Regions from separate parts of the Homo sapiens genome. Here region 2 is linked to region 1. Evidence: fine-mapped expression QTL. Tissue or cell type: esophagus mucosa. Region 1 holds a variant in brackets; the other region holds the start of a gene. All regions are shown on one strand. Distances are between the middles of the regions.

Region 1 (5,374 bases):
CTGCCGTGGACACCTCCCCACGCCTGGGCCACCACCTGCCCAGTCCTCATCACCCGCCATCCAAAAAGTCACTCTGGTGTTGAAGACTCATCTAAACCTGGACCCCAAAATGCTACTGGCATTTAGTCACTATTCCACAGGCCCGTTCTGATTATTTGTTATTTTATTTTATTTGAGGCAGGGTCTTGCTCTGTCACCCAGGCTGGAGTGCAATGGTGCAATCACTAGCTCACTGCAGCCTTGATTTTCTGGGCTCAGATGATCCTCCCACCTCAGCCTCCCAAGTAGCTGGGACCACAGGCACACACCACCATGCCCAGCTAATTTTTTTATTTTTTGGTAGAGACAGGGTCTCCCTATGTTGCCCAGGCTGCGTGATTTTAAAAACATAAATATCTCCAAATTATCTGACCCTCCTAGAGATGAAATCTCCCTGTGGCCGCTGTTCTTTTTTTTTTTTTTTTTTTTGAGATGGAGTCTCTCCATGCTGCCCAGGCTGAGCTTGAACTCCTGGCCTCAAGCTATCCTCCTGCCTCAGCCTCCCAAAATGCTGTGACTACAGGTGTGAGACATGGCACCAAGCCTGTGGCCACTTTTTCTTTATTTTCACATGAGATAAAGACACCACCTGAGAAAGTATTTGAGTGTGTGTGTGTGTGTGTGTGTGTGTGTGTAGCTGGGGTATGGAGTCACATGTGCGTGTGGGAAACAAGCCTGAAGGGTTGCTTTGGCACATCACCTCTGGGTCTTGCCATTGCAGTGATTTATTTGCTTTTCTGTATTTTCTACCTTAACATGTAATTTTGGGGAAATTAAAAAATCAATTTAAGAAACTTAATGGATAAACAAAAGACAGTCAATACTGGAAAAGGCACAAATCATGAAGGTAAACCCATAGGCATGGATGTGAATCTCAGCAGTGTGTGGTCTTGGGCAAGTGGCTTGTGCCTTTGCCTCTCTGAGGCCTGGTTTCTCACCCCCCCAAAATGGGGGATTATATAGTAAATGGCAAAAGTGGCTGTAATCTTTGCCACTTCTCCCATCAAAAGATAGAGTTTGTTTTCCCTCCCCCTGAATCTAGGCTGCCCTTGTAAGTTGTTTTGGTTAGTGAAATGCAGGAGAAGGGATGGTGTGCTTGTTCCAAGTGGACCTCAAGGGCCTTGCAGCTTCTACTCACTCTCTTGGAACCCCGCCCAGCTGCCATGAGAACAGCCTGGGCTAGCCCACTGGAGGATGAGAGCCCACACAGAACTAAGACAAGCTATCTCAGTTGACCCCATTCTGAGCCAGCCAGCTGGCCCCAGCAGACCTGGAAGTTGACCTCTGACAACTGAGTGAGCCCAGCTACCAGAAGAACTGCCCAGCTGAGCACAGCCATTAGAAATAAATAGTTTGGGCTGGGTGCAGTGGCTCACACCTGTAATCCCAGCACTCTGGGAGGCCAAGGTGGGTGGATCATGAGGTCAGGAGATCAAGACCATCCTGTGAATGGTGAAACCCCATCTCTACTAAAATTAAAAATACAAAAAAAAAAATTAGCCGGGTGTGGTAGTGGGCACCTGTAGTCCCAGCTACTCAGGAGGCTGAGGCGGGAATGGTGTGAACCCGGGAGGCAGAGCTTGCAGCTAGCCGAGATCATGCCACTGCACTCCAGCCTGGGCGACAGAGCAAGACTCCTTCTCAAAAATAAATAAATAAATAAAATAAACAGTTTGGGGGTAGTTTGTTATGTAGCTAACAACAGCTGACAAACACACTAAACATGCCCCTAACTTATGACCTTTGCCCTTGCTCTTTGCTCTGCCTGAAACCCCACTCCCTGCAAACTCCATGGGCCTTTTCTCTCTCACTGCCTTCAGGTCTCTGCTCAGTGAGGTCTCCCCTGGCCAGTCCATATAAAAAGCCCCTCTCCCATCACTCTCCTTCGTATATATCTTGCCATAGCACTTACCACCTCGCTTCTTTATGTATTTACTTGCTTATTTGTTTATTGTCTCTCTTCCCCCAACACACACACCATGGAATATGAGTGTCATGGGGGCAAGGAGATTCTCTATTTTGTCTACCACTATTAGCGCCCAGCACCTGGTAGGGGTTCAGATATTTGTGGAATAAACAAGTTCATCTTTTGCCTTAGGGGCTCCCATCCAGCTGGCCACAGCGCTCTCACTAAGAAGACGTATTCTGGGCACCTCCCAGCTGCCCGCCTGGCTCTGGGCCCTCAATCCCTGAATGACAGTGGTCACTGCACTTGAATAACCC[T/C]CTAGAGTGTAAAGGGACTTCCTCCTTTCCTGCAACCCACTAATGGGGTCTGCAGACCCCACTCTCCAGCCCTGTTTCTCAGGTGAGATAACTGAGGCGGAGAGACTAGTGCAGGTGTAGGGACACAGGTATCTTGTGGCACATCTTGCCTGGTGCTCCCTCAGGCCATTGGACAGAGGCACCTCCTCCCACCACCAAGAGCTGGGCCAGGCATCAGGGATCCCTGGTCTGAGCCTTTTCTTCTCCTAACTTGCATTGAGACCTGAACAGTCCCTAACAGGGAGACAAAAAAAACTTCTCAACAGTGAGAAGCCTCTGACAATCCCAGCACCTCATTAAATAGACTTTCATCATTTCATGCAAAGCTACCAAAGGAAAGAAAACATCAGGGGCTGTTAGACCTTGGCCAGGGGTCCCCTCAACTCTCAGAGCGTCAGGAAGGCTGAGGAAGAGGGGTGAGGGGGAGGGTCCCCCGCAGCCTCTGGCTGGCCTCACCCAGCCATCTCCCATGGCACCTCCTGCCCTGGTCAGAAGCCCTCCTGCCCTCCTGGGCACTCAGGGGAAATCCTCTGCAACTTGGGATGAAAACCACAGAGCAAGAGTCCCTGGAATTCACGTGTGACTGCTTGGTAATGTTGCCTTAGCCCAGCTTTCCCCAAGAGCTGACCCAAAAGGAAGATTCAAGCAGAAGCATTTTGTGGGGGGATGGCCCCAGGAAGCCCCAGTAGGAGTGTGTGCTAACTCTGGGCATTCCCAGCTTGGTGGAGTGTGCCCCTGCCATCAGGGGTGCCCTTGAGAAGAGAGGCAGGCAGGTCCTGATGTAGGATGCCACTGGGTGTGCAGGAAGGAACTGCAGGTGACTTTGGGGGTCCAGGGCCCTGAGGAAAACTGAGAACAGCACTGCTGATCCCAGGGGAGGGGATGGAGAGCAAAGGGTGACTCTAGGGAGGCATTTCAGCAGAGGAGACCCATGAGAAGGGGAGGACCCTCCATCTTCAGGCTGGGTATTGAATTTTCCAAGCCCACCTGGCTAACGACTTTGCCCCCAGAGGCACTTGAGCAAAGGGCCAGCCCCAGCCAGAGCCAGGAGAGCAGGCTCTGCACTGCCGCAGGAGAGCTGCTAGCCCAGCCTGGCTACACCATGGAAGCCCAAAGACAGGAGCTCTTTTACAGAAATGAAACCCCTAGAATTAGTCCCCAGACCAATGGCTCTGCATGCAAAGGCACAGACAGCATAGACTGAAAGTCTACTGTGTGCATAGCTGCAGCCAGGAGATGGGCAGGGGCCCATAAGAGAACACCAAGGTCATGTTCATTAAGCATTCACTGAGGCTGTGCATGGCCTACCTCAGCGCTCACAGCCCCTCCTCCTAGTGGCAACTACGACTCTCCCCTGAGATAGGACCGGTATTCCAAACACCTCTCCGGGGCAGGCAGGGGTGGCAGCCCCTTCACTAACTGGACTCTCCTTTTGTGCTCAGAGTAACCCCCCTCCCATTTTACCAACGTGGAAAGGGATGAGCTTCAGGAGCTTGGCCATGGTCACCGGTGCCAGGGAGTGAGACAGAGGCAGAACCCTGGGAGGCCTGGGTGATTCAAACACATCACAGAGTCTTTACCCTAAGGGAGCTGCAATCCAGCCGGGGAAATAAGACCCCGAGGAAAATGAGCAAGAGCAGTTAAACCGCAACATAAGGCAATAATACAAGGAGGCTACCACCCAGAGCCGGACATTCCACACCCAGCAGTCGGCCTCGCCGCCTCCCGCCCGCTTCTTCTTGTAAGGGCCTTTCTCAAGAAGTGGCTAAAAAGGGACTTAGGATAGCACTTGGCGGACAAAAGGGGTTGTTGGCCCCTGCTCTAAAACATTTGCCAACACATCTTCCCATCCCCTAGGGCTTTAAGAATGATCCCCACCCTTAGCTAGTCAGTGGCTGCAAAGCAGCCCCTTTCATTAAGCCAGGGAGGGGGGTCCAGTGGAAACTGAGCCCCCGATCTTTGGGAAACTGCTGAGGAGGCTATAAAATTAGAGAGAAGGACGAGCAAATTACAGAGAGGGAGTGGGCAGGCAGCAGGGCCTTTCATCAGCCTGATTAGCTAAGGAAAGAGGCCCAGCCATGGGGGAGGAAGGCCAGGGGAGGTCGCCGGCTACCTCCTGGGGGATTGAGGGCCCCTCCAAAGTTCAGGGGCCTCAGCCCAGGCTTCTGCCTTCAGGTCAAACCTGTCCTTGCACAGTAGGGGGAGGACCCAACATTTTACCGGGATGCACCATTTCTCACCCTCTGACTCTGGGGCCTGGCTGAATCTCCTGGAGTCTCATTCTCCTCATCTGTAAAACAGCCCCGGCTCACAGGATGTAACTGTGACTGAACTAAACAAGTGGTTGGTTCTCAACCCTAGCTGTACATCAGGACCACCAGGTGAAGACATGTTAAACCTCCAATACTTAGGCTGTACCCTGTACTATTGATATCAGAATCTTTGGTGGGGGGTGGGGAGGGTTGGGTGGGAACATCCCAAGCACAGGGACAACTGGAACAGAGGGCCTGCGCAGGAGAGCCTGGGGTGTCCTGGAACAGGTGTGGCTGGATGGGGATGAAGGAGAGGGATGGCACAGGAGGGAAGTTCACAGAGGTCAGGGGAGCTCAGCTACACTTGCAGATCACAAACCACCCCACATTTCATGCAGGAAACAACCACAATAAAACCACCACCATTTTATTGTGCTTGGGCTTCTGGGAGGCTAGAGTCTGGACAGGCCTTAGTGGGAATGACTCGTCTCTGTTACATAACATCTGGGGCTTCAGCTAGGAAGATGTGAGTGTCTTGCGGGGGCAACTGTCTAATACAGTAGCCCCTAGGCTCATGTGACTATTTAAACAGAAATTAATTAAAATTAAGCAAAATAAAAACTTAGCTTCCTCAATTGCACCAGCCACATTCCAGGTGCTTAATAGAGAAGTGCCAGACTTGGCTGGGCGCAGTGGCTCACGCCTGCAATCCCAGCACTTTGGGAGGCCGAGGTGAGAGGAACCCTTGAGCTCAGGAGTTCGAGACCAGCCTGGGCAATACAGGTAGACCCTGTCTCTGTAAAAAATAAAAAATTAAAATA
Region 2 (5,374 bases), 36 kb after region 1:
CACAGTATTCCCTTTCAGTTTTGCTGAATTGGCCAAAATGAGTATTGGGCTAGAATTCAAAATCCTGAAGAATCAAGTATGTCCCCCTACCTTAGTGAGTCTTAATTAACTCCATCCTTAGGGAGAATTCCAAACCAAAGTAAATTATCAGGAGGGCATTTAAACAATTTAAGTAACACACATTTCAGGTAACACACAAAACATTTCAGTTGACTACCGAAATTGTATTATGGCAAAAAGTTGCCCAAGACTTAGTTTCCCATTATTTCATACTTGCCCCAAACTCCCTTTCAGTTAACCATAACACCATCTAGGCCAGACCACAGCAGGTTATCAGCATCAGCAGAGATCAGAAAACAAAAATAAAGCCACGCGTCAGGGTAATTATTTATTTTTATTGTCTCTTTATTCCTGTAATGTAAAAAGGAAAACAATGTCATGTAACTCTCTTCGCTACAGATACGGACAGTTTCTGTAGCCTCTAAAACAGGCAGGAAATGGCCTTCATAACCATTCTCCAATTTTGCTGGAGGATCAGGGTGGTGGAAGTCATTTTAAAAACCAGCTGCAATATACTGTACTACCAGAGAGTGGGGTGAAGCAATTGAGTCCTTTTACCTAGCTGACTCCGAATCAAGACAGCTAAAAGAATGTACCAGAAAGAAAGAAAAAATAAAATGCTACCAAAATCCCAATCCATTATCTACCCTTTATGGAGAAAAGTACCTTTATAATGTTTTACAAAGAATCGTGGTCTCAAGTTTCCACTTTGTTTTAGTAATAAAGAACTTTCAAAAAAAAAACCACTCTAAACAACACCCTCCTGTATAGAAAGCTCTATTTTAATAATTAATGCAATGATACCCTTGTTGGAACAATCCAGCCGCTTTGAAACTCTGGTATTTACTTACTAGATGAACAAGTTTCTCTATGGAGGTGCCTTTAACTTCTCAAGAAATGTGTAAGTTAAGACGGCTCCAAATTACATTTTAAGAGAGCCTTGTATTTTTAGAGGTTCTTTTTCATCGGTCAGAAAAACTTACGTTGACGATTCTGCAAGAAAGGTTGCTCGCAAACCATGCATCGCAAAGCTACCGAGGCAAATTTAAAGAACCAATGAAAAAGAGTGGAGGCTCGTCTGAATCTTTAATTGGCTATGGGAATTTCAATTTATTGCATAAATAATCTTTTAGACCTCAAGATACACGTGACCTAGGGACAGTTTACATCAATGGGCAAGACTTAAAAATAGACACCAAGTTCAGCAAGTATTTGAGCACCTACTAAAAATTACACAACTCCCACAACAACGCATTTTGCGTTTCTAAAGTTGTAAGCAGCATGTTCGGACGCTTGATGCAATTTCCCAAGTTGTTTGGGCCCCCCCCCCAAAAAAGTCTTCTCAGTAAAAGGTGGGGGGAAGGAGGGTATTTTGGGGGCAACAAACCAAACTGGTCTGTCGCATGTTAAGTCAATTTCACGTTCACCTACTGGTCACCACGAAGCCGAGGAAAGTTTTAAAAAGAACATTCCGGGGTCTCCAGAGATCATCTCTCCAAGTCCGCTCGGCACCGGCGCCTGAGCTGGGGCTAAGGTCCCGCGTCTCTGGTTCTGTCCTAATAGAATCCGGGACATCCACAGGGATTCCCCGGGGCAGCCTTCAGTGAAGACCAGGGAGAGGGGCCGCCCGGGTCTCACGGGTGCTTCCCGCGCTGGGGATGGCGGCGAGCAGCCACGGCCTATGGACGCGCAAGGGAAAGAATGCAGCGACCCCGGAGCTCGCAGGGCCGCCCGCCCAGGAGTCTGAGGCTGGGAGGACCTCACCTTGCTGCGGTCCTCCTCCTGCTGCTGCAGCAACTCGGGAACCGCGGCCATGGCGACGCGGGACTCGAGCAGGGGCCGCCTGGCTGTGCGAGGAAAGAAGAAGCTGGGCCGCCGCCGCCGCCGCCTGGGCGCCTCTCGGGGGCGGCCACGGCCCCGCCTCCGCCGGCCTCCCTGCCCGACGGCGGCAGGAGGCCTCCGGACTCCGCCACCATCCCAGCTGCCCCGGGAGCAGGCGAGCAGGGCGCCACGTGCTCCCCCAGAGCAGCCTCCCAGTCCCCGCTGCCGTCCATCTTGGAGCCGGGCAAAGACGCCACGTGGGGCCTACCCTTGCTCCGCTCCACGAGGAGGCCGCCAACCGCAGGGCCGCGACACGGACGGGAAGCAACGGACACTCTCCCAGCAAGACGCGTCTAGAGAAAGACCGCGTTTCGGTGCGGGGGGAATTTATTACTCAGCCCGAGTCCAAGATGGCAGCGAGCGCTGACGTCACCAGATCTCGTGAGAGCAGAAGGGCGCGATTTGGAGGCTCCCGCGCTTCGGAGACGCCGGCCCTTCCGCTCGGAGAGGTACTCCCTGCCTCTAACTGGTGGCGCGTTGGCGGAGGCCGACGAAAGCCTCGGGTGGGGCGTGAGCGCCGCGGGGCATTCTGGACCTGCTTTGCCTTAGGCTGTGCCTAATTCGAAACCAAAGCGCGGGACGGATGAAAGTACGGGTCGCGAGAGGTTGTTCGCGCCTTGAGAGTTAAGCGAAGTGTGGTGGCTTCCAAGGTACCGACACTTGCCGTAGGCTGGGCTTTTATTTAAGTCGTCTTTTCTCTAATCCAGACTCCTGCCACAGGGGCCACCGCCGTCCTGGCCCCGCCAGGGGTCCGCACCCACGGCGGAGCGGGAGGCGACTTTTTGCGGTCACAGTAATGGGACCTCAGCGCCGCCACCAGCTCTGACCGGCGAGCGACGGGACCCTCCAACCCGATTTCCACGTCTGTGCAACGGGTTCATTCTAGACCCACGGTAGAGGGTGTGAGGACCAAATGAGAAGTATCCACACAGAATACTTAGCAGAGAGCCTGGTGTCTAGGAATTAGTCGTCGTCTGTCACCTAGGACTGTGTGGCCGCCATGGGACGGGCTCCATCTTTGTGTTTTTCCGTGTCTCGCACACGCCTCCCTTCCTGGGCGTCACATTCCTGCAGATTAGAAACTGGGACGTCTTGCCTCAAGCTGTCTACTAATTCGCATTTAGTATGTGTCGGTCCTTCGGGTATTGAGTCTTGATTTATTTATAAATTTTTTTTGGAGGCAGGGTCTCGCTCTGTCGACTTTCTTAAGAAAGGGCTCTGTCCAAACATGTCGAAAAAGTTCACAATTTTGATGTGCAATATCATTCTGATGCAGCTTTCGCTTTGATGGTTGTTTTCTCTCCAATAGGAATACAAACATAAAGGCCTTCGACCGTTGCAAATAGACTAAAGTGAAAACAAATCTGAATGAAGATGAAGTTATTTCAGACCATTTGCAGGCAGCTCAGGAGTTCAAAGTTTTCTGTGGAATCAGCTGCCCTTGTGGCTTTCTCTACTTCCTCTTACTCATGTGGCCGGAAGAAAAAAGTGAACCCATATGAAGAAGTGGACCAAGAAAAATACTCTAATTTAGTTCAGTCTGTCTTGTCATCCAGAGGCGTCGCCCAGACCCCGGGATCGGTGGAGGAAGATGCTTTGCTCTGTGGACCCGTGAGCAAGCATAAGCTGCCAAACCAAGGTGAGGACAGACGAGTGCCACAAAACTGGTTTCCTATCTTCAATCCAGAGAGAAGTGATAAACCAAATGCAAGTGATCCTTCAGTTCCTTTGAAAATCCCCTTGCAAAGGAATGTGATACCAAGTGTGACCCGAGTCCTTCAGCAGACCATGACAAAACAACAGGTTTTCTTGTTGGAGAGGTGGAAACAGCGGATGATTCTGGAACTGGGAGAAGATGGCTTTAAAGAATACACTTCAAGTAATTATCTCAATTCTGATTCTATATGTTTGCTATGTTTTCTATAATAGAGAGCAACGGTGTCAAAAGAATGAGGTTTGGTTTTGTTTTTTTAACTTACTAGCAAGGAACTCCCTTCAGATAGTAATTAACATTAAATAGCACTTTATGTGTATTAACTCACTTGATCCTCATGGTAGTCCTGTGGAGTATAGATACTGTTATCCACATTTTACAGATGAAACTAAAATAGATCAAATATTTGACTAAATAATACATAAAATTCACTTGTTTTATAAGCTACCAACAATATTAGAATTGCTTGTTTTCCTTGATTATTGAAAAAAGTCACCTGGTAACAGAATTCTAGTTGTTTGCTAGATAATTCTGTTTAGAATCCAGTAAATACCCACTGTCCTACTTATTAGCGTAAACTGACTCGTAAATTTAAAGACCTTGAAGCAGACCAGAACACATGACCTATATTTAGACCTTGGTAAACATAATCAGAGGTTCTTCATAAGGATCTGAGGATAAATACACTTTAACCTTCAACTTCTAATTTACTAACTTGGACAAGTGAGGAGAATAGCTTCCTTAAATTTAATATTCCATTCAAAAACAAAGACCATTGGCACTGGTGAATTAGCTAGTCCCATAAATTATATAGGGGTCTTTTGTTAAAGGAAAGTTTCACATCAATCATTCCTTTACCCAAGCTTCCCAAAGTGCAGTACATGTACTCTTAGTAGTACACAAACTCTTTCATTTTTGTTTTAAGAATAGTGTACTGACCCTTGCCATAGCCTGGGCTTCTATTTAAGTCGTCTTTTCCCTAATCCAGACTCCTAAAACTATGCGTGTAACACATTAAACATGTCACATGTTCTAAAGAAAAATACTAAGTATATATAGGTGGTATTGGATATGTACCAAATGGTCAAGGCCTTTGCTCCTTATAATATTCCTCAGCTGTGTGGGGCAAGGATTATATATGCAAGAGCTAACTGCCTTCCTAAGATAGTTAATTAGTAGCAACCACCAAACTATTGTCTGCTTTCCAAGCAAGCAACATAAAAATCTTCTAATGGCATCTTACAGTTTTGTATTTGTACCACTAAAATTTAGAATTGATAGTTTTCTCATGAGAAGTTATTTTCCTTAAACCAGGAATGTACAGCTGAAATTACTAATAAGAAATGTATTATTAAAAGGCAGAAACCTGCTGGAACACATGGGACCCCAGGGCCTGTAGCTCTTGGCACAAAGTAAGGAAGTGCACCAGAGAGGAATTTCTGTTTGGAATGTGAATGAGCCCCAATAGCCCAGGCAGAGAGAAGACTGGTTGTTTTTTTTTTCATAGAGTCAGCTTTGTTGATCTAGATTAGCACTCAGCTGTGTTTCTCAGTTAACTCAGTAGCAACCTTAAGAAATGAGCAGAATCGCTTACCCCAGCACCCCGCCCAGACTTGACCGCCGGGACCCAAGTGATTCTCCCATCTCAGCCTGCTGAGTAGCTGGGACCACAGGCGTGCACCACCATGCCTGGCTAATTTTTTTATTTTTTGTAGCGAC

Alleles and levels. Alleles are on the strand shown, and positions count from the first base shown. SD is a standard deviation of normalised expression in the study named.
As copies of T replace C in region 1, the expression in esophagus mucosa of the gene that starts at base 2,244 in region 2 goes up (small effect, 0.12 SD a copy in GTEx).

Evidence for each region.
Region 2: SNX5 starts here. The variant in region 1 is fine-mapped to the expression of SNX5 in esophagus mucosa (GTEx, PIP above 0.99).

What each region holds. Positions count from the first base shown.
Region 1 is chr20:17,930,380-17,935,753 of GRCh38, forward strand. No RefSeq gene overlaps it. Among named protein-coding and RNA genes, the nearest start is that of SNORD17, 30 kb to the right of the region's middle. RefSeq lists a silencer at 1,143-1,343. The variant T/C (reference allele first, on the strand shown) is at 2,263.
Region 2 is chr20:17,966,551-17,971,924 of GRCh38, forward strand. It overlaps SNX5 (sorting nexin 5), which reads right to left and starts at 2,244. Exons shown (of 13, transcript NM_014426.4): 1 at 1,825-2,244. The coding sequence starts at 1,875. MGME1 (mitochondrial genome maintenance exonuclease 1) reads left to right here and starts at 2,468. Exons shown (of 5, transcript NM_052865.4): 1 at 2,468-2,591; 2 at 3,251-3,820. The coding sequence starts at 3,310. RefSeq lists enhancers at 957-1,711, 1,573-1,622, 1,673-1,842, 1,712-2,466, 2,083-2,392 and 3 more and a silencer at 1,873-2,082.